3 separate regions of the Homo sapiens genome follow, and all the other regions are linked to region 3. The links come from fine-mapping of genetic effects on gene expression. A gene starts in region 3. Each other region holds a variant in brackets. All regions are shown on one strand. Distances are between the middles of the regions.

What was found.
Region 1: its variant is fine-mapped to the expression of SERINC5 in adrenal gland (GTEx, PIP above 0.99).
Region 2: its variant is fine-mapped to the expression of SERINC5 in whole blood (INTERVAL, PIP above 0.99).

Annotation. Positions count from the first base shown.
Region 1 is chr5:80,175,205-80,185,468 of GRCh38, forward strand. SERINC5 (serine incorporator 5) reads right to left here. Exons shown (of 12, transcript NM_001174072.3): 3 at 2,682-2,860; 4 at 2,111-2,193. Among named protein-coding and RNA genes, the nearest start is that of SERINC5, 76 kb to the right of the region's middle. RefSeq lists an enhancer at 7,929-8,749 and silencers at 8,563-8,857, 9,123-9,417. The variant A/G (reference allele first, on the strand shown) is at 5,074.
Region 2 is chr5:80,214,206-80,224,469 of GRCh38, forward strand. All of the region lies in intron 1 of SERINC5 (serine incorporator 5), which reads right to left. Among named protein-coding and RNA genes, the nearest start is that of SERINC5, 37 kb to the right of the region's middle. The variant C/T (reference allele first, on the strand shown) is at 3,998.
Region 3 is chr5:80,252,330-80,261,330 of GRCh38, forward strand. SERINC5 (serine incorporator 5) reads right to left here and starts at 3,719. Exons shown (of 12, transcript NM_001174072.3): 1 at 3,567-3,719. The coding sequence starts at 3,593. RefSeq lists silencers at 3,202-3,481, 3,592-4,031, 8,121-8,415 and enhancers at 3,885-4,818, 4,819-5,752, 5,753-6,684.

The sequences.
Region 1 (10,264 bases), 76 kb before region 3:
TTTACAGAAGAGAAAAATTGAGAATCTATGTAGGTTGACAACATCTCAGTCAATAAATGGTATAGTTGGGATCTGAACACAGGCAGTCTGACCCTGAAATATCCAAGCTTATCCTCCACACTACATCTGCCAGGTACCCTAATAGATGCCCTAATTCATAAAATCCATAATGACCCACAACTTAAAAGCAAACACATATTGCCAGGAAAATCAAAGGTTCAAATTTTATTGGGTAAAAAGTCAACAATGACCAGTAAAGAAACAAGGTTCAGACAGGGGACAAGGACTCGGTTCGACTTCTGGCTCTGCCACAAAGACGCTATAACCTTGAATAAGTCACATCACATGGGTTCCAATTTGTCTATAAAAATCACTGAGCTGGGGCTGGGCACAGTGGCTCATGCCTGCAATCCTAGCACTTTGGGAGGCTGAGGCAGGGGGATCACTTGAGGTCAGGAGTCGGAAACCAGCCTGGCCTACATGGTGAAACCCTGACTCTACTTAAAAAAAAACTCCAGGCATAGTGGCGGGTGCCTGTAATCCCATCTACTCAGGAGGCTGAGGCAGGAGAATCACTTGAACCTGTGAGGTGGAGGTCACAGTGAGCTGAGATTGCACCACTGCACTCCAGCCTGGGTGACAGAGCGAGACTTGGTCTCAAAAAAAAAAAAAAAAAAAAAAGGACTGAGCTTGGCCGGCCGCAGTGGCTCACACCTGTAAATCCCAGCACTTTGGGAGGCCAAGAGGGGGCGGATCACAAGGTCAGGAGTTTGAGACCAGACTGGCCAATATGGTGAAACCCCGTCTCTACTAAAAATACAAAAATTAGCCAGGCGTGGTGGTGCGTGCCTATAGTCCCAGCTACTCGGGAGGCTGAGGCAGAAGAATTGCTTGAACCCGTGAGGCAGAGGCTGCAGTGAGGCGAGATCGTGCCACTGCACTCTAACCTGGGCAACAGAGCGAGACTCTGACTCTGTCTCGAAAAACAAAAAAAAGACTGAGCTGGACCAGAGGGTTTCTAGGTCTCTTCTCCCTCCAAATATACATTCTAATACATAAAAGGATCTCTGTAGAGAATTTTAAAACTTTTAACAGTATTTTAGGTAACAGCAAGACTTAGGGAGTACATGAAAAACAAGTATGACCTTAAACAACTAGCTAGGCCCTGATACATAACTATATGAAGGATTATGGCTGTTCCTTATAAACTGACACAATCTAAATGTTTAGTTTAGTTTTGTTTTTGAGACAAAGTCTCACTCTGTCGCCCAGGCTGGAGTACAGTGGTGCAATCTCGGCTCACTGCAACCTCTGCCTCCCAGGTTCAAGCAATTCTCATGTCTCAGCCTCCTGAGTAGCTGGGATTACAGGCACACACCACCATGCCTGGCTAATTTTTATATTTTTTAGTAGAGATGAGGTTTCGCCATGTTGGCCAGGCTGGTCTCAGACGAACTCCTGGCCTCAAGTGATCCACCCACCTCAGCCTCCCAAAGTGCTAGGATTACAGGTGTGAGCTACCACGCCTGGCCTAAATGTTTTTAATACCTTACTTAGGAAAGTGAATCCATTTGGGTTGAACAAAATGCTCTGAACCACTGAAATTCAGGTTTTTCCCTCAGCTCATATGAAAAAGGGCGCCCTGTTTCAGCTATGATTAAAGGCTTCATATTAATGAATTAAAGCAGGTTCTAACAATAAAGAATATAATTCAATGCTACAGAGCTTCACATACGGTAAGTTTAATAACAGACTGAAAGATGCTTTTCCTGTCCCACTATCGCTGCAGCAGACATTTAGCTGCTGACAGCCCTGCGCTCCCTGTTGCTGGGTTTTCTGTGCAGTGCTTGGAAAGAACAAGGTCTCCCAGGCCAGCAGAGTATCAGAGTCCTCTTACACCCTACCTGGAAGTGGGATGCGGTGGTGAGAAGAGGGGAGGTAGATAGGCAATGATGGAAAAAGTATGGGCAGGTAAGTCAGGAATTTCTTTTGAAGCCAAAAGAAAATCAGTAATTCTAACTATCAGAGGTACTTTGGACTGCGCTTCTGAGCAATTTGACAAAATGGGTAAAAACAAAATAAACAGATACCCAAAATACCCCATTAGTACCGTTCAGAAAGGTGTCCTGATCTGGAATGAAGAAAGCTCCTGAGCACATGGCCCCCAACAGCAGAAGTTTAAAGAACCAAAAGCTAGAAGTGGGGGGAAAAAAAAGAGGAAATGTATTTAAATGACATTCAAGAAGGACAAAGGACCTCGTAGAAGGTACAGCATGTCAATCCATGATTCTGCCATTGGCCAATGTTCTCTCCTAATCAAGGGGAAGTAACTAGGTGACTTGAAGAATGCTTTTTCCCATAATTAGGCAGACTCAGTGCAGCCTCCAGTTGTGCAAAACACCATTTCATTGCAGGGGTGGAAATGACCTGGGGGAAGGTCTTGGAACAAGAAATAAACTCTTTGTCTTGAGTAAATTTCGCATCATGGTACCAGGTGTTACAAATAAGATTCTACCTTTGAGGCAACCATGTGGGTAAGTATCAATTCCACCTTCCCCTAAATCAACAATTTCAACTAGAAGAAGGGCAGTCACAGTGTCTGGTGGGCAGATGGGATCCTGGACTACTGTCCTGAACATAAGAAAGGAGAAAGCAATCCCCAAGAAGACTAAAATACTTACCCATTGTGAATATGAGCTCTACAACTTTTGCTGTTGTTGATTTTCAAGGTCAGTAGACAGAAGATAAAGAAGAAACAAGCCATTCCAAAACAGACTCTATACACGGCAGAATATCCCACCAGCTTCTCACAGGTGTCACCAGCTTTAATGCCTTTACACATATCTTCAAAAAAAGGAATCTGAGGAGAAAGTTTAGAAAAGTCATCTGTTACAACTGAGTGAGAGGTGGACTGTCACGGAGTGTTCATGCAGCCAACCACAACATCCACTGTGGAAATGGATCGTGTGCATAAAGAAACAGACTGAGGATCTATCTTCTAAAGAGATATTTTTCTAATTTTCTCTGAATCTTTTTTAAAGATACAGTGATCATAAAGTAACACTCAGCCTTTACTTGCCCCAAATGACTTCTGAAATCCAACATCAGATTTTACAAAAATTACCTTTTTTTTAACCGCCCCCACCCCCACCCCCACCCCACCCCCGACCCCAAGACAAGGTCTCTCTGGCTCTGTTGCCCGGCCTAGAGTTTAGTGGCACAATCACAACTCACTGCAGCCTCGATCTTCCAGGCTCAGGTAATCTTCCTGCCTCAGCCTCCCAATTAGCTGGGACTACAGGCACGCACCACCATGCCCAGCTAATTTTTGTATTTTTTTTTTTTTTTTTTTTTTTGTAGAGATGGGGTTTTGTCATGTTGCCCAGACTGGTCTTGAACTCCTGAGCTCAAGCAATCCACCTGTCTTCGCATCCCAAAGTGCTGGGATCATCATAGGTATGAACCACTGCACCTGGCCTAAAATCCCATTTCAATACATGGATATATTTTTGTTGATATGTATACATATATACAAATAAAAAATCAGAGACTTCTTTTACTATCCACCCAAAATGTCACTCCTCTCCCTCAGAAGAGTAAACAATTGGTGGGTAGAGTATTTGTATTAATTCACATACATAAATGTGTGTGTATACATATATACAACACACTCACATATACATATACATACACAACACACATACATACACTCATATCATACTATGCATATAATAAATATATTAAAACAGCTTTTTAAAATAAAAGATTGTATGTAATGTTCTGCAATATTTTTTCCCAATTAACAATAAGCTGGGCCAGACACGGTGGCTCATGCCTGTAATCCCAGCACTTTGGGAGGCCGAGGTGGGTGGATCACCTGAGGTCGGGAGTTTGAGACCAGCCTGGCCAACATGTGAAACCCTGTCTCTACTAAAAATACAATAATGAGCCCGGTGTGGTGGCTCGTGCCTGTAATCCCAGCTACTAGGGAGGCTGAGGCAGGAGAACTGCTTGAACCTGGGAGGCAGAGGTTGCAGCGAGCCGAGATCGTGACACTGCACTCTAGCCTGGGCAACAGAGTGAGACTCTGTCCCAAAAAAAGAAAACAAAAATAAACAATAAGCCATGAAGAGTCTTTCTCTATTAATACGCAAAATCCCATCACATTCTTTTTCATCACTATCTTATACTGTAAAAAGGCTTGATCAAAATCAATAACCATTCTCACACTGATCTTAATTTTTTGTTGGGGAGGGTTTTTAAATTTTATTTTTTGTACTTGTTTTTTATTATCACAAACACTAATTCAATAAATACTGCTGTTCATGCCTCACTGCACCTGTGCCATTATTTATGTAGGACAGACACCTGAGCTAGAAATGGAATTAGTAGGTCAAGTAGTCAGGTTGAATGTCCCTTATCCAAAATGCTTGGGACCAGAAGTCTTTCAGAATTTGGAATATTTACACTATATTACTGGCTAAGGTTCCCTAATCCAAAAAAATCCAGAATGCTTCAGTGAGCATTGCCTTTGAGTATCATGTTGGCACTTTAAAAGTTTCAAATTTTAGAGTATTTCACATTTCAGATGTTTGGATTAGGAATATTCAACCAGTATCTACATTTTTAAACTTCAAGATGAGTTAAATCATACTTTCAAAGGCTGTACCAATTTACATCCTACCAGTAATATCTGAGATTGCACATTTCCCAACTTGGACATCTAATTTAAAGGCAAAAACCCAATATCCTGTTTTAAGGTACATCTTCCTTATTACTAGTGAGATTCAGCATCTTTTCTCAAGTTTATGGCCATCTGTTTTTTTTCTCTGAATTGGCTGTTAATTGGGTATTTTCTTGATCCACTGGAGCTCTTTATTAGTGGGTCTTAATCTTCTGATAAATGTTGACAATAGCTTATTCTAGCCAAATTAGAAGACTTCCACATGAAATAATCAGTTTCATTATCAGAATAATTAAAATCTTACACAATGAGAACAAGCAGCACATTCCTAGTAATGTCATAAAATAAGGATTTGGTCAGTCATAAAAACTTGCTTCTTATCAACATCA[A/G]AGTTGAACACTCTTCTGAACAGAAAATAAATCACATTATAACTATTATTCATAAGAAAAATAAAGTATCACAGAGAAAAAATAGCACAAAACTGAAGGTAAAAGGAAAGTGTGATAAAGAAGATAATTTACAGTTTCTTCTCCAGAAAAAGATACTGAAGAAACAATAATATCTGTGGCTATCACGATTTCCATAAACAAATGTCAACCCAAATGAGAGACTGAGGCAAGAGTCTCAATGGGGAATAATTAAGCCAGAGCTTGAGGGGCTGCTGAGAAACACACAAATCACAGAATCCTCTGTGGCTGGCGCTCCCAAAGAGGTTGCTCGGTATTTACCCATTTCTTTAAAGGGGAGAAGGCATGCAGGAAAAGGGGGCAGGTGGTGAGGCAAATGCAACATTCTCCTGAGATTTTAACTAGTGCCCAGTAAACTCCGCTATAAAAGAGATATGATAAACATTCAAAAAGGGAGTAAAGGAAGAGTTAATTATGTAGTCTCAGGGTAGGCAGAGAAATGACTGCTGTCCTGTCTTTGTTCTGCACCTGGGAAGATAAGCTTGTAATGGGCATTGTCAGTGTGAAATGTAACAGACTGCAATTCCGTGGACAGGGAGCTAGACTTAGATTGCAGACCTAAAGTTACAGCTGACATGTCCTTTTTTATGGGAAGATACACATCTTGAAAGGTTTAGGGACCAGCAGAGAATTTACTTATGAGCAATTTGAGGGCAGTCATCCGGGATGCACGAGGCCTTCTGCCTTCTCCAGGGGTGTGGCTAATGCATAGCGCTTTGACACAAGGTTGGGAAGTCGCAGCTATCTACTGGGCAGGGGGGCAAGGTGCGAGGGGACAGCAGCAGTGTCACGTGACTGTCTCTCCAGTCTTAAGTTTCCATTTGGCATAAAGAGTTTGGGCAGTCCTGAGAGGGTTTATTTTCCTTTACACAAACAAACAAAGAGTTCCATTTTCTCCCCACTCCTTTTTGAGACAGGGTCTCACTCTGTACCCAGGCTGGAGTGCAGTGGCGCAATCTTGGCTCACTGCAACCGTCGCCTCCAGGGCTCAAGCCATCCTCCTACCTCAGCTTCCTGAGTAGCTAGGACTACAGGCATGCACCACCAAGCTCAGCTAATTTTGTGTGTGTGTGTGTGTGTGTGTGTGTGTACAGTTGGTGTTTCACCATGTTGACCAAACTGGTCTCGAACTCCTAGACTCAAGCAATCCACCTGCCTCAGCCTCCCAAAGTGCTGGGATTACAGGTGTCAGCCACTGTACCTGGCCAGCTCCATTTTCATGAAGACATGTGAAAGACTTCATGAGGAAATAGCCAACATTTTGTTTTCAGCAAATTCCTAAAACTGTACATTTTTTATGACTTTTTTTTTACACCATTTTGTCACAACAGAGACAAGATGTTTTGCTTGATAAAGACTGCATCCAACCAGATAAGTAGATAAACAAGCACAGTCTTCAACTATCAGTCCTCACTGGAGGACTCTGTGGCCATAAAAAGGGTAGGTACGGTTCTAACTCGTGACAAGCACCTGGCATCTGCCCCGAAGGCTCTGCCCACATCAAAGACTGTTTCTTGCACAACCAACCAGATTAACCAGCCCAGACCAGGAAATTCTTTTTTTCTTTATTGCTCTCCCTGGACTACTTCATTAACCCTTTTCCTATTCCCTTTCTCTTAATGTTAAATGTTATTTTGTTTGTTGCACAATGTTTAATCAGTAACATTTATATATTGACAGAGTATACGATTGTGTACGGTTTGCAATACTGACTGGCTGGTGCAGAGGCTGGAACCTGTGTGCCTGCAGATCTAATGAGTGGATGAGAAGTACTAAGAAGAATTGGCTCCCTGGGAACTCCACATAGCTGGTGGCTTTTGTAACTGAAATAGCATCAGTTAAGTCCAACATTATGGAAAGACACAAATGTTCGTGGACCTGGTTACCTCTGACCTTGGCGTCACTCACAAAAACCAAGATATGCCACCCTAAAACATTCTTCTTTGCGTATTTCAAGCTCGTTATTCTGAGAAGCTGAAGACACAGGAGTAGCTCTGCAAAGCTGCTGTTTTATACAAAAAATTTACATCTGTAGAGGAAATCTACATTAGTAAAGTGTATCAGACGTTTATTCACCATACATTTCTTCCCCTCACTCTCCCATTACGTGTTGCCAGCAACTCCCAGAGGCCCCAAGCCCCTATTCCTCTCTGTAGCTCAACATGCCATAAGCTTCTATCATCTGACCGCCCCCCCCCCCTCCGCTTTTTTTTAATTGAGACCTCTGTTGCCCAGGCTGGAGTGCAGTGGCGCAATCTCGCCTCACTGCAACCTCTGCCTCCCAGGTTCAAGTGATTCTCCTGCCTCAGCCTCCAGAGTAGCTGGGATTACAGGCGCCTGCCACCACGCCTGGCTAATTTTTGTATTTTTAGTAGAGATGGGGTTTCACCATGTTGGCCAGGCTGGTCTTGAACTCCTGGCCTCAAATGATCCGCCCACTTCAGCCTCCCAAAGTTCTGGGATTACAGGCGTGAACCACCATGCCCAGCCTATCTGACCCTTTTTAAAATTGCTTTTTCTCCTGTAATTGGTCTTATGTCAATTTAATTTGCTTCCAGAGAAAGAACCTAGAAGAGTGGAAGGAAGCCATTTTTCCCTTCTCTACAAAGGCAAGGTCTTGCTGGGAAGGGCCAGGTGCATGCCAGACTTAGCAGTCAGGCCCCCATCCTGTAAGCAAGGGGAAAAGCACTACTGAAGCTAGAACACCTTTGGCTACAAAGTGGAAGACGTGGTGAAAGGGTACAGACTTGAGGCAAGGGGACAAGTTTGAAGGCCACTGGGAACAGGTGAAGAAGGTAACCCCAGGCAGAGAAACCAGAGATTCTGCAGGTAGAGCTCACAATTGGCAGGAGAGCACAGATGACAAGAATGAAGCACAAGAATGAGACAAAGCTGTTTTGTTTTCTTCTTTTTTTATGGCATTGCCGTTTGGGGTGGAGGGAGGGTGGAGGGCAGAGGACAGACAGCAGAAGTGAAGAACAAAGCAGGAGTTTGCTCTTTAACACCTTAGGGCATCACCAAGGGGTATCCCAGCGAGAACAGTCTGGTCTGGAAATTGCTTTAGAACAGCAATTGGGGCTGGATACAGGAAGTGTCAGGCCTCTGAGCCTAAGCCAAGCCATCTCATCCCCTGTGACTTGCACGTATCCCCTGTGACTTGCACGTATACGCCCAGATGGCCTGAAGTAACTGAAGAATCACAAAAGAAGTGAAAAGGCCCTGCTCTGCCTTAACTGATGACATTCCACCATTGTGATTTGTTCCTGCCCCACCTTAACTGAGTGATTAACCCTGTGAATTTCCTTCTCCTGGCTCAGAAGCTCCCCCACTGAGCACCTTGTGACCCCCGCCCCTGCCCACCAGAGAACAACCCCCTTTGACTGTAATTTTCCATTACCTTCCTAAATCCTATAAAACGGCCCCACCCCTATCTCCCTTCGCTGACTCTCTTTTCGGACTCAGCCCGCCTGCACCCAGGTGAAATAAACAGCCATGTTGCTCACACAAAGCCTGTTTGGTGGTCTCTTCACACCGACGCGCATGAAAGGAAGCACCCGCAGGCGGGTAATGAGAAGTCAGTCACACAGGTGCTTTCTGGAGGAACCTCAATTTTTAGCTGTGTTTAAACATGAGTGATGAAACAGCATGGTTAAAATTTTCAGGTGCTGAAATATGGTAGGGGACACACACAAAAATGAATGTTTCAGAGAGTCTAACCCAAAACAAAAGTTACACCTGTATGAGTAGTGCCAGTAACGAGGAGGTAATATTGCTTTGAATCTCTAAAAGCTACATTCATGGAGAAGCCATACCACTTCATTCATTAGGCTGTTTCATTTACACAGGATTTATTGCTCTAAAACATTCCCTAAATTATTTTCTTCCCCACCTTCTCTCTTCTACTCCATCAGCAACTCTAATTCCTGAACCACATCTTCCCCATAACACATGCACATTAGCACCTCTTTCATCTATACCAGCCCATCTTTCACCTTTAGACCTTCTCTGCCTCCCTACCTCTTTTTTCTTCCTCCAAAATCCATTTCAAGGAGAATGCTAACAGCAGCAGGCTGAGCCACCATCCCCAACAAATCCCCTCCCTTGTTTGCTTACTCCAGAATCTGGAATGCGGCCAGGGCCCTTTAAGGCTCATCACAGGGTGAGTACATTGACACTGTATATTCATCAAAAACAGGTAAACAACCCCCCTGCTCCAAATCCTAATCAAGACCTCCTTTATACTCTGTGGGTGACTTAGCACATTTAGTTTTCAGTATGTGGTAAGTATTTTTGGGCAAAGAACCTCCAAGGTGAACAAGCTAGCAGGATTCTGGCAAGGGGAATTTGCTCCGATTAAATATTTGCTGTTCCAAAGTCCACCCCATTTTTGGAAAAAGAAAAAATACATCACATACAAATTCCACACCACAGGGTGAAAGGAATGTGCCTGCTAAGGGTGTTACCTCTTAAGTCTGGCTCTGGGCACCCAAGGACAGGGCACTTAAGCCAGGCTCACACACTGTATGTTGTTTCTTTTTTTTGATGCAGTCTTGCTCTGTTGCCCAGGCTGGAGTGCAGTGGCGCAATCTCGGTTCACTGCAACCTCTGCCTCCCAGGTTCAAGCGATTCTCCTGTCTCAGCCTCCCAAGTAGCTGGGATTACAGGCATACACCACTATGCCCAGCTAATTTTTGTATTTTTAGTAGATGGGGTTTTGTCATGTTGGCCAGGCTGGTTTCAAACTCCTAACCTCAGGTGATCTGCCTGCCTCGGCCTCCCAAAGTGCAGGGATTACATGCGTGAGCCACCGCATGCAGGCTGTATGTTGTTTCTATACAGACCCCTGAGAACAAGGCGTTTCCCTCCAACCCTCAAAGCAACCAAACTCAAAGCCACAAACTATCAAGTAAGAATAAACAGCTCATAAGACTTCCATTCCTAACTCCACTGCTAACTTGAGCTAGCTACACACATACACACCCTGAGCCTCAGTTGTGCCATCTGTAAAATGAAACAATACCGACACCCATTTCATGGAGTTGCCTGAGAATTACATCAGATAACACCTGTGAAGTGCTTACCACGGTTCCTAACCCATAGTAGTCATTAAGTT
Region 2 (10,264 bases), 37 kb before region 3:
TAGCATTTTGGGTAAAAATATAACAAGACATAGATCAGCACTAACAACAACAAAAAACAAACTAGAAGGATATATCAGTACATCAACAGTAGTAAACAGAGTTGTAGAATTATGAGTGACTATGCTCTTCTGTATTTTCTGAACTCTCTGCAACAAGCATACATCTTATAATTAGAAAAACATTACAGGTTTCTATTTTGGAAGAAAACAAAACATTCCTGTTCCACCTCATAGGTGGTAAGCCCTCAAATATTTGTTAAATGCATCAGACAATGAGTAAATCAAACCTACTTCAATGTGATTGGAAGAAAACAGCCAGAGTGAACTATCACCATAATTGAGGCATTAAAAAAACAAAAAAAAAACGAACAAAAAAACACCTCCTGTACTATACACTTGAAAATAGTTGGGTCAGGAGCAGTGGCTCATGCCTGTAATCCCAGCACTTTGGGAGGCCAAGGCAGGCGGATCACTTGAGGCTATGAGTTGGAGACCAGACTGACCAACATGGTGAAACTCTGTCTCTACTAAAAATACAAAAATTAGCCAGGTGTGGTGGCATGTGCCTGTAATCCCAGCTACTTGGGAGGCTGAGGCAGGAGAATTGCTTAAACCCAGGAGGCAGAGGTTGCAGTGAGCCAAGATCATGCCATTGCACTCCAGCCTGGGCAACGAGACTGAAACTCCATCTCAAAACAGTAGTTAAGATGGTAAATTTTATGTATGCATTTTTTACCCCGCAAGAAAAAAAAAATTCCTTAAGCCTTGTAAAACTTTATAGAGTTTAACTGATGTAAATAAACCAATACTTGGTAGAATTTGAAGCAATTAAAAATAAAATAAAAAAATTAAACAGCTATCGATATGGCTAGGATTTGTGTCCCCACCCAAAGCTCATGTTGAATTGTAATCCCTAATGTTGGAGATGGGGCCTGGTGGCAGATGACTGCATCATGGGGGAAGATTTCTGATGAATGGTTTACCACCATCCACTTGGTACTGTTCTCACAACAGGGAGTGTGTTCTCATGAGATCTGGTCATCTGAAGTGTGGGATATCTCCCACTCTCTCTCTCTCTTGCTCCTGCTCCTGCCATGTAAGACACCTGCTCCTCCCTTGTCTTCCGCCATGATTGGAAGCTTCCTGAGGCCTCCCCAAAAGCAGAACCTGCTATGCTTCCTGTACAGCTTGCAGAATGGTGAGCCATTTAAAGGTCTTTTCTTTATAAATTACCTAGTCTCAGGTATTTCTTTATAGTAATGCAAGAACAGATTAATACGGCTACCTAAAAGTTCAAGAAGTTAAACAGAAGCTATATATCTGCCTAGACTAGAAATATGCTCTTATAGTTCCTTTATCTGGGTTTCTTAAATTTTATTTTGAGTTCAGAGAATCCTCTAAAGCGCCAAGGCTTTCATCATCATGCCCATAACTGTGGCAGCAGTATTGTGGGGACTGTGAGAGATGAGTTTCTGGCAAGTGGTTTCTCAAACAAGTTTCAACATACTAGAGCGGTGTTATTTTCCACGTTGAACATTTCCATGAAACAAACAGTCAAGGGTCAACTTAGTATCTCCAGCCACCAGAACCAAGTCTGAAATGGGCAAGAAGAGGCTATGAACGCATACAAAGCCATCAGTCAGCTTTGGGGTTACAGTGGAGTCTGGGACAAAGATGTTCCCCTTTTTTGGAGTCTCTTTCTCAGGAGGTTAGGGCTACTTTCAGCACCAGAAGAATGTTTATCAAGTCCTCTGTTCTCAGACAGCAGTGGGATTATTTGAATCATTCCATCACAGGACCCTCTCTCTACCTTAAAATTAAAAATATCATATCACACTTGATACATTTTAGCAGGTTGGTGAGATCTATAAGGTTTGAGGTTGAGGGTAAACAACATCCCTTCTGACAGCTCAACAGAAAACAAACGTTCCTCAGGGGCAGGTCCTTCAGAGCAGCGTTTCTATCACTCGACACTATTGACTGGGGGCCAGAAAATTCTTTCTTGTCGGGGGCTGACCTGTACACTGGATGCTGATGTTCAGCAGCGCCCCTCCCTGCCTCTACCCGCTAGATGCCAGTCACAACTCCCCCTCTCCCCTGCAAGGCGTGATGATCAGAAATGTCTCCAGACAATGGCTCCCCAGTTAAGAGCCACTGAGTTAGGGGTGAAAAGCAAGAGCCATCTCCACAGTCAGACTGTGGGGTTCACCACCTTCAGTCTGAACACAGGAGAGCATGCTGGCAACTTATGTGTGTGAGAAAACTTGTTGGAAAGCTAAAGCCGTCTTTACACCTTCATTTCCACTGAGGAAAAAACAAGAGCTGTGGGAACATTCACTGGCACCCACTGAGGCAACAAATACCTGTGGCAGAACAGGGCTGAAAAGGTGAGTTAAGTAAGTTCTATTAAGAAAAAGGTATAAGAAAATGAAACCTTGAAACTCAAAACGGAGAAGTGTAGGAGACTGGGAGAAAACAAAAGTACCCATTGGGTTTTAAATATTTTTTTTTAATTAGTTTTAGGGCTGGGCACAGTGGCTCCTGCCTGTAATCCCAGCACTTTGGGAGGCCGAGGTGGGTAGATCGCTTGAGTCCAGGAGTTTGAGACCAGCCTGGGTAACATAGTGAGACACTGTCTCTACAAAAAATACAAAAATTAGCCAGGCATGGTGACACAAGCCTGTAGTCCCGGCTACTTGGAAGGCTGAGGTAGGAGGATGGATTGAGCCCAGAAGATTGAGGTTACATTGAGCTGAGATTGCATCACTGCACTTCAGCCTGGGCAACAGAGTGAGACTCTGTCTCTAAAAAAACAAATAAAATAAAATACAGTAAAAACTCGTTTCATTTATAAAGTAAGTTTGATGTTTACATTTTTATTCTTAATTTTTAATTTTAATTTTTTTATTTTGATATTTTTATTTTACAAATTTTTAATTAAAATAAGTTTATTTAAAAGTTTTATTTTTAATTTATAAAATAGTTAATTTTAAATAGTCTCAGCAAAAAAGAAGGTGGGCAGAAACCCTGCTCGTTCTACTTTATAAATAGTAGCTTATCAACCGGCAGCCAGTGAAACACTAAACCCAAAATTTGCCTCATTGTGTCATGGAGATTATGCTGCAAGGGAGAAACCTGCCAAGCCCTTTCCAAGAGGTGCTATGTGCCAGCCCAATCCCCAAACCCTGCCAAGCCACGGAGTGCTTTCTAGGCTGGTGACAGGCCCCAGTGCCAGCTAGATGCCCGTATGCTCGGGGATGGAAACAGAAAGGAGCTCATTTCACTGCTCTCAGAGAGCTGGAGTGCAGAGGACCTTAGAACTCAAGTGCACCAGAAGCTTCAAGAGTTTAGCGGCGAGTGAGCTCTTCTCCCCACCAAACGAAATTCTATGCACAATATGTAACACATATGGATGCAGTATAATACCAAAAATGCAGTTCTATATTCATACAGTATTTATTAAATGCTTACTAGTGACTGGGTACTGGTTCTAGGAGTTGGTAGTATAGTCCCTGCTCTCAGGAAACTCACATTTTAGTGGATTTTTTAATCAAACTCAGCATCCAGAAAATTCAACCTAAACAGGGCTACATCCCAAAACCTGCACTGGAAGTCCCTGATCTAGTCCAGTCCTCCTATTTTCCTGATGTGAAAACCGAGGCCCAGAAAGGTTAGGTGATTTGGCTCAAGGACAAATCTAGTGACAACCATCAGTGGAGCATCAAAAAACACATCAGTGCAAACAACTCAGCAGTCTGGAAAAGGAAGGAGCTAGTAACTCATCCTCTGGGTTCCACACTTCTGTATCTACTGTGCAATATACTAACAGACACTTGAGACAACTAAAGGAAGTCATCGTTAGTAGCTTTAAAAAACGCTCTGCTCCATCTCAAAAACAAACAAACAAACAAATGCTCTGCTGATCCTAGGAAGAAGGCAGTTTCAAGTGTCTCAGAGTCTAATACATTTTGAAAGGTTTCCCTCATGACAGTTAAAA[C/T]GAAAAGCCAGCATGTGTCGCATTAACCCTGGGGTGGCCACAAAACCGGTGTTCCTGGCTGGGCGCAGTGGCTCACGCCTGTAATCCCAGCAGTTTGGGAGGCCAAGGTGGGCGGATCACCTGAGGTCGGAAGTTCTAGACGAGCCTGACCAATATGAAGAAACCCCATCTCTACTAAAAATACAAAATTAGCCAGGCATGATGGCACATGCCCGTAATCCCAGCTACATGAGAGGCTGAGGTAGGAGAATCACTTGAACCCGGGAGGCAGAGGTTGCAGTGAGCCAAGATTGCATTATTGCACTCCAGCCTGGGCAACAAGAGTGAAACTCCATGGTGGCACGTGCCTGTAATCCCAGCTACTTGGGAGGCTGAGGCAGGAGAATCACTTGAACCAGGGAGTCGGAGGTTGCAGTGAGCCGAGATCACGCCATTGCACTCCAGCCTGGTGACAGAGCAAGACTCTGTCTCAAAAAAAAAAAAAAAAGTCTGGTGCTCTTGAACAGCTACAGGCTGTGCTATGGTAATGCCCACCCCCGACTACCTCCCTTCCTGCGCTTCTGAGAAGCTGACAGCCCCGACTAAATCACCCCACGTGCAGATTCAACCACTGGCCGCTCTCCCCACAAACCACATCACAGAAAGGGCTCACTGCTCAAAAGAACACCTCTGACCCATTCCACTGCCCAGTAACAATATGTTTCTCTTTCAAGGTGGTTAGTCTAGCAACAAGGGCTCTGAACAAGGAAAAACTTGCACGCTTCACCTACCCTAGATCCCATAAAATCCTGTTCTTTAGGATTCAGTGTCCAATAAAAGATGATTATTTCAAGTCTTTCTAATATTTTTCACATAAATACATAAATTAGAAAACAAAATGTCAGACAACAGGCCTCTGGTTTGGAAAACCACAGCTGTACCTGGATAGTACCAGTGCTCAGAGGCAAGATCAGGGGAAGGGGAAAGGGAGGCATGGGCCCACACTAACCTCTCAAGACGCATGTCCCTCCTACAGGGTCGCCCTCACTCCTCTAGCCCACCCCATGTTCTGGATGCCTGGTAGTGCCATGAAAGTCCTGGTTTAACAGCTTTTTTCTTGGAGTAACAGCTGCACTGTTTTCCTACAGCTGAGAAAACACTTTTTCTCACAGTTAACTTTAGCCTTCATCATCCCTCAAACTTCAGGAAACCTTCTTTCCAGCTCTTCCCTCTTTTCACCCTTGAAATTCATCTTCTTCTTCCACTTCTAGCTTGAAGTGGAAGGAACGAATAGGTGTGTGCCTTTCCCCCAAACAAATAGCCGCTGTTCATTGCCTTTTCAAGCAAGCACTGCCAGATGCCCAGTGGGTTTTATCAGCACCCCTCCACCCACTTCTGGAGCAGGTCCTCATTCCAAGGCAAGCTGGCACAAAGCCCTAGACAGCCTTTGTGAGGATGCCTGCATTCAAGCACCAGCTGCCTCGATGGCACCAACTGGCAGAGAACTGTCATGCAATTACCCCTTCGCCCCCAGCTTGAGAAACTCCTGTTTATGTTCTTAAAATACATTTGCAAAAGGAACCAGGGCCAAATGAAGGTGCTTATACTTATTTCTTCTATCATCAACAGAAATGAAAATAACCTTACATCACCACCCGCCAACCTTTACCTTTTTGTTTTTTTTCATTCAGGGTATTGGCTACACACAACCAAGTACGGGAGTACAGAGATAGAAGCAAGTCACAGGCCAGGCGCGGTGGCTCACGCCTGTAATCCCAGCACTTTGGAGGCCGAGGCAGGTGGATCACCTGAGGTCAGGAGTTCAAGACCAGCCTGGCCAACATGGCCAAACCCCGCCTCTACTAAAAATACAAAAAACTAGCTGGGTATGGTGGCACATGCCTGTAATCCCAGCTACTCAGGAGAGCAAGGCAGGAGAATCGCTTTAACTCAGAGGCGGAGGTTGCAGTGAGCCCAGACAGCGCCACCATACTCCAGCCTGGGCGACAGAGCAAGACTCTGTCTCAATAAATAAAAATAAAAAAAAAAAAGAGAGAGAGAGATAGAAACAAGTAACTTGCTCATATTGGCAGCGGTGTTCCCTCTACTTTTTAAAATTACAAGGCAGAAGTCTTCTATCAGCCCTAGATTGTGAAGACTAGCACTCCGGCAACAAAATCATACACAATGGACCTCAATGCCAGGCTGACTGAATGAATTGTTATTGGGCTGCAAAGTAAACAGGCCAAAGGGGTAGGCTGTTCAGGAAACAGATCTTAATTACTGTTATTTGTTCAGTCAAACCTAGCATTTATTTCTCCAGTCAGCTGGGTGGAGTGGATGTTGGACTGGGCAAAGAAGGCTCCTTTGAAGATTCTGGATCTTTCTCACCCCTCCTTCCTTCCCCTGCAAGGAAATCCAAGGCCTCAACACTCAGGGAGCCCCAAGTGGAGAGCTAGTTTGGGGCCAGGACACACCTGATTGATGCCGCCTCTGAGGTAGGCGCCTCTGAGTCACTGCCCTCCATGGAGAGAAAGGAATCTGAGGGCTCCAGACAGGAAACTGAGGGGTGAAGTGGGGAGGGGGGCAATCAAGTAGTAACTGGAAAAAAAAGGACTCTGATGTGGTGGTGGGAGTGGTGGTGGTAGGAGGGTGGCCTGGGGAGATGGAGGAGCCTGCTGGAGTGACAGGAACAGAGGTTTGGGAGGAGCGTGGATGTATGCATGAGACAGCAGGGAAGAAATGGGGTCTTGAGCAGCGTGGATGAGGGAAAAGAGCCAGGAAGTGGAGGAAGCCCCCCAAGAGTGGAGGAAGCCCCCCAAAACAGGTCAGCCCTGAGCAGAACAAAAGCAGAGACTGCCTCACTGCAAGAGCAGAGAGCACTCGGCCATGCTAGAGGACCTTGGCTCAATGGTACTCCAAAGGGGGCTCATGAACAGCTGCCTGGGCATCACGGGGAGTCTCAGCCTCCATCCCAGATCTGCTGAAGCAGAACTGGAGCCTGCAGGGTAAAAATAAATAAATAAATAAATAAATAAACCTTCCCAGGGGATCATCTGACATCAGCCGACAGCAGGCACATTTAACAATCCTGCGCACCTTTAATAATCCTGTGTTCAAGTGATGACAACACGCCACACACCCAACAGCCAGCTGCCCTCGCTCTTCATTCAGAAGGGTCCTTTGGTGATGGCAAATAACAAAAGCAAGTTTCCCGTGCGATCACACACGACTTCAATATAACAGATAAGGGAATCATGAGAGACTAGCATGCAGTCTCTGAAAAAGGTATCTGTAATTCAACCTGGAAAAAATGCTAATGGACACATCCTTAGGAGAGATGAATACACAAAAATATTAACCAGGATTATGGGATGTTAGATGGCCTTTGTTTACTTTATCTTGTCTATGTTTTCAAGGTTTAACATTAAGCACGAATTTCATAAGTTTTTTAAATGAAGAGAAAACTGCAATATTTTAATAGGTAAAGAATCAAAGAGTAGAAAAAAAGTAAAAAGCCTATTTAATTTGCTACCCACCATATAGGATATGTTTTGTTGTCTGTAAAATGCACTCCATTGGTCTACATTAAAAAGCAAGACAACTTTAGCAAAAAAAAAAAAAATCAATGAACATCAAAAGAAAATAAATACTATAAAATGAGTTTTGAGGATACCTTTAATGGCCAGACACGGTGGTTCACGCCTATAATCCCAGCACTTAGGGAGGCCAAGGTGGGAGGGTCTCTTGAGCCCAGGAGTTCAAGACCACCCTGGGTTGTGGGGAGACATCAGCTCTACAAAAAAATTTTCTTAATTAGCTAGGCGTGGTGGTGCCCATCTGCAGTCCCAGCTACTTGAGAGGCCGAGGCAAGGAGAATCACTTAAACGCAGGAGGTGGAGGTTGCAGTGAGGTGTGATCGCACCACCACACTCCAGCCTGGGTGACAAAGTGAGACTTTGTCTCAAATAATAATAATAATAGCTTTAATAAAAATGGTCCCAAGCTCACTCTCTAGGGTAAGCACTTTCCAGACACTGAGGAACAAACACAGAGGACGCAGGGGAAAATCTGCTACGCTATGCTCCCTGAAGAAGAATCACCCCCACTTTGCAACTGTGGATGGGCCACTGTTTCAAAGCAATTTCTCAGTGGCGGGACAAAGCTTTGCTGAATCATTATCTCCTGTTATTACCTCACATCATCACGGACAAGTTAGGTGTCTACAAGGAGACTCGAGAAATGTGATATGGTGGCCTCTGAAACAGAGATTTACTTCATAATAACAAAACTGGACCACGTGGGAACCAAATCCAAAATTGTGACCTCACCAGATCCAACCCAGAAGTTTTGGTGGGTTTTTTGTGGGTGAGTGTGTGAGTGTGTGAGTGTGTGTGTGTGTGTGTTTGAGACGGAGTTTCGCTCTTGTTGTCCAGGCTGGAGTGCAATGGAGCGATCTCGGCTCACTGCAACCTCTGGCTCCTGGGTTCAAGCAATTCTCCTGCCTCAGCCTCCCAAGTGGCTGGGATTACAGGTGCCTGCCACCACACCTGGCTAATTTTTTGTATTTTTAGTAGAGATGGGATTTCACCATGCTGTCCAGGCTGGTCTCGAACTCCTGGCCTCAGGTGATCCACCCGCCTCGGCCTCCCAAAGTGCTGGGATTACAGGTGTGGGCCACCATACCGGCCAGTTTTTTAGACAGTCTCACTCTGTTGCCCAGGCTGGAGTACAGTGGTACGGTCACAGCTTACTGCAGCCTCGACCTCCTGGGCTCATGTGATCCTTCCATTTTGGCCTCCCAACTGGCTGGAACTACTGTGCCAGAATGCCTGGCTAATTTTTTTTATTTTTTTATAGAGATGAGGTCTCACTATGTTGCCCAGGCTGGTCTTGAACTCCTGGACTCAGGCAATCCACCAGCATCAGCCTTCCCAGGTGCTGGGATTACAGGCATGAGCCGCTGTGCCCAGCCTAGCTTGCCTTTTCATAAACAAATATGCCTGGGATTTTATAAGGCATATAGCTATCCCTCAGTATCTGCGAGGGACTGGTTCCAGGACCCCTCGCGTGAATATCAAAATTCTCATATGCTCAAGTCCCTGATATAAAATGGAATTTGCATATAATCTATGCATATCCTCCTATATACTTTAAATTATCTCTAGATTACTCATAATACCTGATACAATGTAAATGCCATGTAAATTTGTTGTGCTATATTTTTTAATTTGTATTATTTTTATTGTTTTGTTTTTTTCCCCAAATATTTTTGATCCATGGTTTGTTCAATCCAGACACAGAATCCACGGATACAGAGGGCTGACTATATATATCATCATATTCTTTTATAAAATTATAACTGGTTAGTATCACTAACTTTCTCATGGTATACAGTAAGGATAGGCTATTCATGCTTTCTAAAGAATATCCCACCCTGAGAGCAAGTTCGAGGGTCAAAGTTCTAATTAAATTAAAATAAAATGCAATCATACAGACTAAATTCCTAGTACCCTACGCATCCAGAATGATTTGAAAGAATGCATTCCTGAGCTTGGCAGGGTGGGTAGCTCTCACCATAGCCAGGAATAGATGAAAACCTCAAGATTTAATCTGTGATGATACAACTATCTACTCATCAACGAGAAAGTTAGAAAAGTCAAGCCGGGCGCGGTGGCTCACGCCTATAATCCCAGCACTTTGGGAGGCCGAGGCAGGCAGATCACCTGAGGTCATGAGTTCAAGACCAGCCTGGCCAACATGGTGAAACCCCGTCTCAGATAAAAATACAAAAAAAAAAAATTAACTGGGCGTGGTGGCGGGCGCCTGTAATCCTAGCTACTTGGGAGGCTGAGGCAGGAGAATCGCTTGAACCTGGGAGGCAGAGGTTGCAGTGAGTGGAGATCCTGTCATTGCACTCCAGCCTGGGCGACAAGAACAAAACTCCGTCTCAAAAAAAAAAAAAAAAGAAAAAAGAAAAAGAAAAGTCAGAAATGAATCTGGGCACAGTGGCTTATCCCTGTAATCCCAGCACTTTGGGAGGCTGAGGCGAGCAGATGGCTTGAGTCCAGGAGTTTGAGACCACAGGAGTTCAAGACCACCCTGGGCAAAGTGGCAAAACCCCACCCCTACAAAAAATACAAAAATTAGCCAGGCTTGGTGGCACACGACTATAGTCCCAGCTTCTCAGGAGGCTGAAGTGAGAGGATCCCTTGAGCCCAGGAGGTCGAGGCTGCAATGAGCAGATACTGCACCACTGCACTCCAGCCTGGGTGACAGAGCAAGACC
Region 3 (9,001 bases):
GATTACAGGCAAGAGCCACCATGCCCAGCCTGCACTGTCATTTTCTGTAGCTAACTTCCCCCAACACTCCCACCTCCACATAGCCCTTAAGTTAAAGGAGAACAAGGAAGCCCTGTGTTCATTACCGTGTCTCTAGGGGCCTAGCACAGAACTTTGAACCCATAAAGTGTTGAGTGACCACTCCCCTGTAATCTCTACTTTCTTAGCATCCATTAGCCAACAGCCTAAGCAAAACCAAAGTGAATATCAGAGTAGATACAAAAATAAAATAAGCTGATCTGGATATTATCCTGATGCAGATGGGTAATGGCCACTAATAAGATTTGGGGGGTTCCTCACACTCTGCCAAATCCTATATTACAGACTTTACACTTATCATCACATGTAATTTTCCCAATAACCCTAAGAAGTACCCATTCAATAGTTGAGGTAAAATGAGGTCATAGAGGGTAAGTAACTCATCCAGTCACACCAGTCCTCATTGTCCAGATTTCCAAATTGAAACCCAGGCCTGAGTCCAAAGCCCAGGCTCTTTTATGGGTTACATATTGTTCAGGATGGTCCGCAGTTAAAGAAAGTCACCAAAATGTCTCTCTCCGACCTCAAACTTCTCCCGACCTAAATACCTAATTGGTGACTTGCCATTTCCATTAAATTTATAATAGGCATCTCTAATGTAACGAAGCCAAGAAACTTGGGTTTTCCTCACCAAATGTCCTCTTCCTAACAATTTCCTACTTCACCTCAGTAATGCGATCATCATCTACCCAGTGGCTCAGGCCAGAAACCGAGCCTGTCTCATTCCCACATCCCACTTCTAATCCTTGCTCAAATCCAGTTCTACCTCTGAAATATACCCAAAGCCAATGATGTCCCACTGTACTCACTCCTACAGCCATAGCCTAAATTAAGGTACCACGCTGTCTCCTCCTGGGACTACAGCAACAGCAGATTGCCAGGATTCGAGCTCCATCAGGAAAGGATTTTTGTTCACTGCCGAAGCCTAGAACACTGCTTGCCCCTAAGAGGCAAATATCCACTTAGGTTTTCCTCACCAACTGCTTCATGACCAACTCGAACTGCTTTCCTCACCTCCACTCTAGCCCGTTACAGTCCAGTCTTCACGACATCCCAATTATCTTCTAAGTGCAAATCAAACCACAGCTCGCCCCTGCTCAGAATCCTCCCACAGCCTCTCACTGCAACCAGAATTAAATCCAAAGTCCAAAGGCAGCTGACAGGTTCTGGCCATTTCTGGTCCTGCTCTTCTCTCTGACCTCATCTAAGACACCCCAGCCACCCTAGACTCCCTTGCCTCTCCTCACTGAGCAGTCTCAACTCCACAGGCATCTTCTCAGACTCCCTCGGCAACCCTCCTCAAGGCTGCTTACCACACGGCCTTCTGACAGTACCAGTACCATATTCATTGTTTCATTGTTTACATGTTTATGAATGATCTCCCCTGCCCAGATAGGCCATTGAGAGCAGAGATGCTTGTCTGACTTATGACTATATAGCAGGCTCCTGGCAAAAGGCAGGTGCCCACAGAAACAAACAAGAATTGGTAACTTCTGACGGTGCTGTGAGGTTTTGTTTGCTTTCCTTTCTTTTGAGATGGAGTTTTGCTCTTTTTGCTCATTGCCCAGGCTTGAGTGCAATGGCGTGATCTCAGCTCACCACAACCTCTGCCTCTGGGTTCAAGCGATTCTCCTGCCTTAGCTGTGTAGCTGGGATTACAGGCATGCGTCATCACACCCGGCAATTTTGTGTTTTTAGTAGAGATGAGGTTTCTCCACGTTGGTCAGGCTGGTCTCCAACTCCTGATCTCAGGTGATCCGCCCGCCTCTGCCTCCCAAAGTGCTGGGATTACAGGCATGAGCCACTGCGCCCAGCCTGTTTGCTTTTCTTTTAACTTCCTACCGCCCCATCCACAGGAAATCACAGTGTGATCACCATCACACAGCACTGAGGCCCACCACAGTGATGCCTCCAGCAGGCCTGGGAAAGCAGGGGTTAACTTTGATTTGGTTCTTTCCAAAGTCCTAAGAGGGGAGACTTTAGAAACCTGCTAAAACATCAACAGCAAAATAATTCTTTTACAAAACCCATTTGAATACTGGTAATTACAGAGCTCTAAATTAGGAACTTGGGAATGGCAGAAAGAGCCTCAAGGGGACTTCAAGGGACCAGGACAGATGCCCCTAAAGAGCTGTATCATTACTACGTAATAAAAAGTGTCGCATCATATTGGAGAAAAAGTATTTCAAAACGGGAATAAAAGATTTGCAGAGCTTTCTGAAAACAGTCTTTCCTGGTCCACCTTGTTCTCAAATACCTGGTAAGGTGGTGACCATTCTCATTCTCTTTCTCTCTCTGCCTGACACAGGGAAAAAAAATCATTTCGTCTCAGTCGTCAAAAGCCTCAATTTCCTCAACTCTGAAAAGGCCAGCTTTAATGTATGCCAAGCACAGTATTAGACCTCAAAAACCAAGACAGCTCCACGTGGCCACTCTAAACAGGACAGATTATCTGCCAGTATAATCGCCGGTTACAGAAACCCACAGTTTAACCACTCCATCACTTACAGCTGGCCTCGATTGTGGAAAGGCTGAGTGTCAGCAAGAACACCCCGAACCAGGATGCTCCCTAGAGTCTGATTCGTTCGTGAAAACACTCCATTAAAACTCTGTACCGAAACGCTGATAATCCACATGTAAAGGGAGAAAAGAGCTCCACATCCAAGAGACTCACCTACTTCGTTTTTTCTAACTCTGCAGGAAGGAGTGAAACCAGCATTACAGGGCTAAGACGTACTAATTCTACACTGATGCAGTAACTGGTAGGAGACATAATGTTTTAAGACATCATAGGTTTAAATAGGCGAGAGTTAAAAAACAGGTTCGAACAAGTTTATTTGCAAAGAGAGGCAGGAAGGTTCCAGCCCTACCCAGGCAGTCGTGCTAGTACCGAGCCAGGGTTGGGTCGGGAAATTCAGGAAGCAGGGCTGAGTTTTCCCTTCGCCCAGACCTGCGCCCGGTAGTTTGGAAGTCAGGCTTCGAGACATTCTCAAAGGTACAGAGCCCACGCTCGACTACGAGATGCCAAGCGCAACCTGCCTGGGTTGTTTGACCCGAGTTTTATTCAGGGCATAGCAAAGGAGACGGTGCCTAAACCCACTTTTCTTCCTGGATTCATCCGACAAGCAGAGTGGAGAGGGCTACGGAGCTCAGCGCTATTCACCAGTGCTCGGCGCAAGAGGCGACACGCCCCTGGAGCAGTCGGGATCCTCCGCCCGAGCCCGGCACGCCCCGCTCCACGCGGAGTCCCGGAGGCCGGACGGGAAGACCCCGGGGTAGCCTCTCGGGCTTCCCCCTGCCCCTTCCCGCCCGCCCAGGGCACAGGATTTCCCGGACGGCTGAGCGCCGCGGGGCCAGCCCGAGCGACCCACCCGGGCCCTACGTTCGGCCGCGGAGCTGGGAGCGCACCCAGGCAGGTCCTCCACGCCTGGACTCCTGGCCCGGTTCTCCGATCTGACAACCCCCGCGCTGCGCCCGGCCTCGCTCACCTGGCCCGCACAGCACTGAGCTGACATCGCGGCGGCCAATGCCGAAGGCGCGCTCGCTGGCTCCCCGCGCCGCACGGGCCCTCCTGGCTGCCTCGCGCCTCGAGCGCTGGGCTCAGCCGCAGCTCACACTTGAACGAAGATCAGCCTCGGCGAAGCGCCTAGGCGCCGAGGCCTGGGTAAAAACAACTGCGGCCAAGCCCCGCCCCGCCGCCGGCCCCGCCTCGCCCGCCCCCAGCCCCGCCCCGTGCCCGCCCCTTCCCGGGCGCCCGGCGGCGGAGCAGGCTCGACCCGGGCTCGCACTTCCGCTGGCGTCAGGCGGGTGGGCTGCTGCGATCACTTCCCGGTTGGGGCGCCGAGCTCCGGAGTCGGCCGCCAGCCTTTGGGCCCCACGCTCCGGGTCTGGTGCGCGGTCTGGCCGCGCTCGGGCCCTCGCCAAATGAGAGCGCAGCGCCTCTCCGCCTTCGGATCCAGAGAAAGAGCTTGTTGCTGCCTCTAAAAGGTTGGAGCCTTAGTAAGCGGTTCCTGCCTTTCCTGCACAGACCAGACCGCCGGGTGCTGGTCTGCGCTCTGCCGCGCGCCGACTGGGACAGCCCACCCACGAGATCCTTGTTCCTGAAATCCCTTTCCTTCCCTCATCTGCCAAGAAAACTTTCAACTTTTGGGCTCTCCGCGCCTCCCAAGCTTCCTCGAATCCCTGGGCCCTTGACTGTTCTGCCCTGATGGCACTTGGTGAGAGATCCATTGAGAGCCCTTTCCGTGCCTTCCTGAATATTGATATGTTTTCCAGCCTCTCCTCCTGCGCTGGCCCAAGGACTCATTTTCCGTCCCTGCTTCCTCACTAAAAAGAGGGTGCCCAATAATTGCTTGTTCCATACAGAAGGCAGGGAGGCCGTCTCTAGGTTTTCTCCCACTCAGATCTGCTGTCCTCACAGCCACCTCCCCAAGAGGAATGAAGGTATTTCTTTTTTTTTTTTCTTTTTTTTCTCTGAGACGGAGCTTCACTCTGTCGCCCAGGCTGGAGTGCAGTGACGCGATCTCGGCTCACTGCAACCTCTGCCTCCCGAGTAGCTGGGATTACAGGCGCCTGCCACCACGCCCGGCTAATTTTTTGTATTTTTAGTAGAGACGGGGTTTCACCATCTTGGCCAGGCTGGTCTCGAACTCCTGACCTCAGGTGATCCGCCCGCCTCGGCCTCCCAAAGTGCTGGGATTACAGGCGTGAGCCACCGCGCCCTGCCGGAATGAAGATATTTCTGTTAGTGCGATTTTTGCGCCAATCCCTTTGCTCTTTCAAATAAGCATTACCGTACCCATTTTAGCGGTGAGGCAACTGAAGCCCAGAGAGGTTAAATAACTTGCCCAAAGCCTCACAGCAAAGTTGAGGAAGTAAAACTGGGCCTGGAATCCACTCGTCTGATCCCCTGGCACATGACGCAAGGCTTGACCTTAGAGGGACTCGTTTCCAGACAGAGCTCTGGCAAAGGAGTGTCTTGGGCAGCTTAGGAGTAGAAGAGGAAAGGTGAATGGAAACCAGGCCTTGGGTTATGAGCTGCGCAGGATTTTCCAGCATCTCAGATGCAGGCGTTTAGAGAAAGAGATATAATGGAGCAGGCCCTACTCAGAGCCACGAAAAGGAATGAGGACAGTTGGCTCTAACTCAAAACAAAAATAGGGTAAACCCAATCAGTCAAGCGCAGCAACCTGCTCCGTGGCGATCTGTGACTCATCAGAAGCTGAGGCTCTCACCAGGACTTTCTAATGAGCTTCGCTGTTGGCTACGACCGCGGTCACTTCACTTCAGCCCTACTCCTGGCCTGGGGAAATGGGCAGGCCCCCTAGTAGCTCGGGGTGGGGAGACGGGTGGAGAGGAAGGAGGGGCGAAAAGGGAAGGCGCGAAATCTACAAATGTTTAAGCCAGCTGGAACTCCGATGCCTCTTTGCCTTTTAGGGAAATTGACTCGACTCGGAACTCGAGGACCTTTCACAAGAGACCACTGGGTTAGGGGGCAGAGCTGGTAATAGAATCCAGCGCTCCGAACCCTGAATCATGTCCTCTTTTTGCTGCTGAGGCTCAGGCCACAGCACCCCAAATTATGACTGTAGAATACCAAAATATGCTATCCCAAAATACACTTGTTTGGCACATTTCAAGCTGGTTATTCTGAGAAACTGCAGACACGGGAGTAGCTCTGAAAAGCTGTCCTTTTGTAAAGCAAATTTACATCTATAAAGGAAGTCCACATAGTAAAAGTATCTGTGTCAGGAAGGCAGCTGCTCAGAGAACTTTTATTACATGAGAGACTTTACATAACAAGGCAACTTTTTTTTTTTTTTTTTTTTTTTTTTTTGAGGCAGAGTCTCGCTCAGTCGCCCAGGCTGGAGTGCATTGGCATGATCCCGGCTCACTGCAACCTCCGCCCCCCGGGTTCAAGCGATTCTCCGGCCTCAGCCTCTGAAGTAGCCGGGATTACAGGCGCGCGCCACCGCGCCCGGGTAATTTTTGTATTTTTAGTAGAGACGGGGTTTCACCATGTTGGTCAGGCTGGTCTCGAACTCCTGACCTCGTGATCCGCCCACCTCGGCCTCCCAAAGTGCTGGGATTACAGGTGTGAGCCACCGCGCGCAGCCACAAGGCAACATTATTTACCATACATTTCCTCCACTAACCCTCCTATATCCTACCTGTGGTGCCTCCCCACTGTCCCCACAGAAGCCCCAAGCCCTTATTTATTTCTAGCTCAGAATGCTATAAGCTTCAATCATCTGGCCCTTCATGTTTTGTGAGATTCCTGTGCTGCTGCGTATGCAGGTAATTAAAACGGTTTTTCTTCTGTTAATCTGTCTTATGTCGGCCAGGCGTGGTGGCTCATGCCTGTAATCCCAGCACTTTGGGAGGCCGAGGTGGGCGGATCACGAGGTCAGGAGTTTGAGACCAGCCTGACCAACATGGTGCAACCCCATCTCTACTAAAAATACAAAAGAAGTAGCCGGGCGAGGTGGTGCGCACCTGTAATCCCAGTTACTCAGAAGCTGAGGCAGGAGAATCGCTTGAACCCAGGAGGCGGAAGTTGCAGTTAGCCGAGATTGTGCCACAGCACTCCAGCCTGGGCGACAGAGCAAGATACCGTCTCAAAAAAAAAAAAAAAAATCTCTGTTATGTCAATTTAATTTGCAATCCAAGTAAAGAACCTAGAAGGGTAGAGGGAAGCCATTTTTCCCTCCCCTACATTGCTAGTTCCATGCCAATGTGAGAGGACTCTGAGAATGTGGATGTCTGCCACCTGGAGAAAGAGTCTTAATAACCTGGGCACTTGGCCAGGCACGGTGGCTCACACCTGTCATCCCAGCATTTTCAGAGGCAAAGGTGGGTGGATCACCTGTGGTTAGGAGTTCAAGACCAGCCTGGCCAACATGGCGAAACCCTGTCTCTACTAAAAATACAAAAATTAGCCAGGCAGGGTGGTGGGCACCTGTAATTTCAGCTACTCAGGAGGCTGAGGCAGGAGAATCACTTGAACCCAGGAGGCGGAGGTTGCAGTTAGCCTAGATGGTGCCATTGCACCCCAGCCTGGGCAACAAGAGCAAAATTCTATCTCAATAGATAAATAAATAAATAACCTGGGGACTTGTAGCCTCTATTGAAAGGTACCAGAAAAGGATAAAGCCTGAGTTTTCAAGCCAGGAAGTTGCAAATTCTAACTCTACCAAGAAGTAGCTGGGTGACCTCCAAGCCTCAGTTTCCTCATCTTCAAAACCAGGTTAATAGTGTCAGAGGCATTTGAACCAGAGAGACTCCATCTTGAATAGGGACTGGGTAAAATAAGGCTGTGACCTGCTGGGCTGTATTCCCAGGAAGTTAAGGCATTCTTCGAGGATGAGATGGTGGGGGTCAGCACAAGATACAGGTCACAAAGACCTTGCTGGTAAAATAGGATGTAGTAAAGGAGCCGGCCAAAACCCATCAAAATCAAGATGGCGACCAAAGTGAGCTCTGGTCGTGCCCACTGCTCATTATACACTAATTATAATTCATTAGCATGCTAAAAGACACTCCCACCAGCACCAGGACAGTTTACAAACATCAGGAAGTTACCCTATATGGTCTAAAGGAGGAGGAACCCTCAGTTCTGGGAATTGCCCATCCCTTTCGCGGAAAACTCATGAATAATCCACCCCTTGTTTAGCATATAATCAAGAAATAACTATAATTAGTTGAGCAGCCCATGCTGCAGCTCTGCCTATGGAGTAGCCATTCTTTACCTCCTTTACTTCTCTAATAAATTTGATTTCACTTTATGGACTTGCCCCAAATTCTTTCTTGCGTGAGGTTCAAGAACCCTCTCTTGTGGACTGGATGAGGACCCCACTCTGGTAACAATATACTTTTTGTCCAGTCACATTTCTACATGGCTGTCCATACTCTGTTGAATGTAAGCATAAGAATGGACAATTTTGCTGTATCTTTGGATCTTCATTCTGAAGGCTCCCATGGCATGTAAAACTATGATCAAATAAATTTGTATGCCTTTTTTCCTTTTAATCTGCCTTGTCGGTTGATTTTCAGTGAAACTTCAGAGGGTAAAGGGGAAGTTTGCCCTTCACCCCTACATGGTCAAGCTCAAGATACCAAAAGACATCAGCTGAAAATTCAATCAACTTGCCTGAATCATCCACCCCAAGCTTAGGAAGCATGCTTGAACCCACCTGGCCAAGGCTGGTTTTGCCGGCCAAAGTCCAAGGCCAAGGCTCCAACCAAAGCCCAGACTTCAGTTGCAGCTCCAGTTCCAGTTCCAGTTCCAGCTCCAGTTCCAGTTCCAGTTCCAGCTCCAGATCAAATTTCCAAGGGTGCCCATGCACACCCACAAAGGATCTGGAGGAGAGGCCTCTGTCTACCAATGGGAGGACAGAAGGACTGGTGTGAGCCCTGGGCTGCCATCTGTTTCTGCATGGAGCTGGTACCATTCTTTTCTATTTATACAAACAAACATGAGGCAGGATCTGTCCATTAAAAAAAAGAGGCCGGGCACAGTGGCTCATGCCTATAATCCCAGCATTTTAGGAGGCCGAGGTGGGTAAATCACCTGAGGTTGGGAGTTCGAGACCAGCCTGGCCAATATGGTGAAACCTCTTCTCTACTAAAAATACAAAAATTAGCCGAGCGTCGCGGCACATCTTTAATCCCAGCTCCTCAGGAGGCTGAGGCACAAGAATCACTTGAACCCAGGAGGTGGAGGTTGCAGTAAGCCGAGAAAACACCACTACACTCCAGCCTAGGCGACAGAATGAGGCTCCATCTTGAAAAGAAAAAGAAAATTAAAAAGAAACAGTCTATACAGGCTCATTCCCTTTCCCCACTCAGAGTTTTTTCAAAGGAATGTGGCCAGATCTGGAGGTTTACCTGCCTTCTGGCTCTGAGGACTTTGCAGTTACTATTT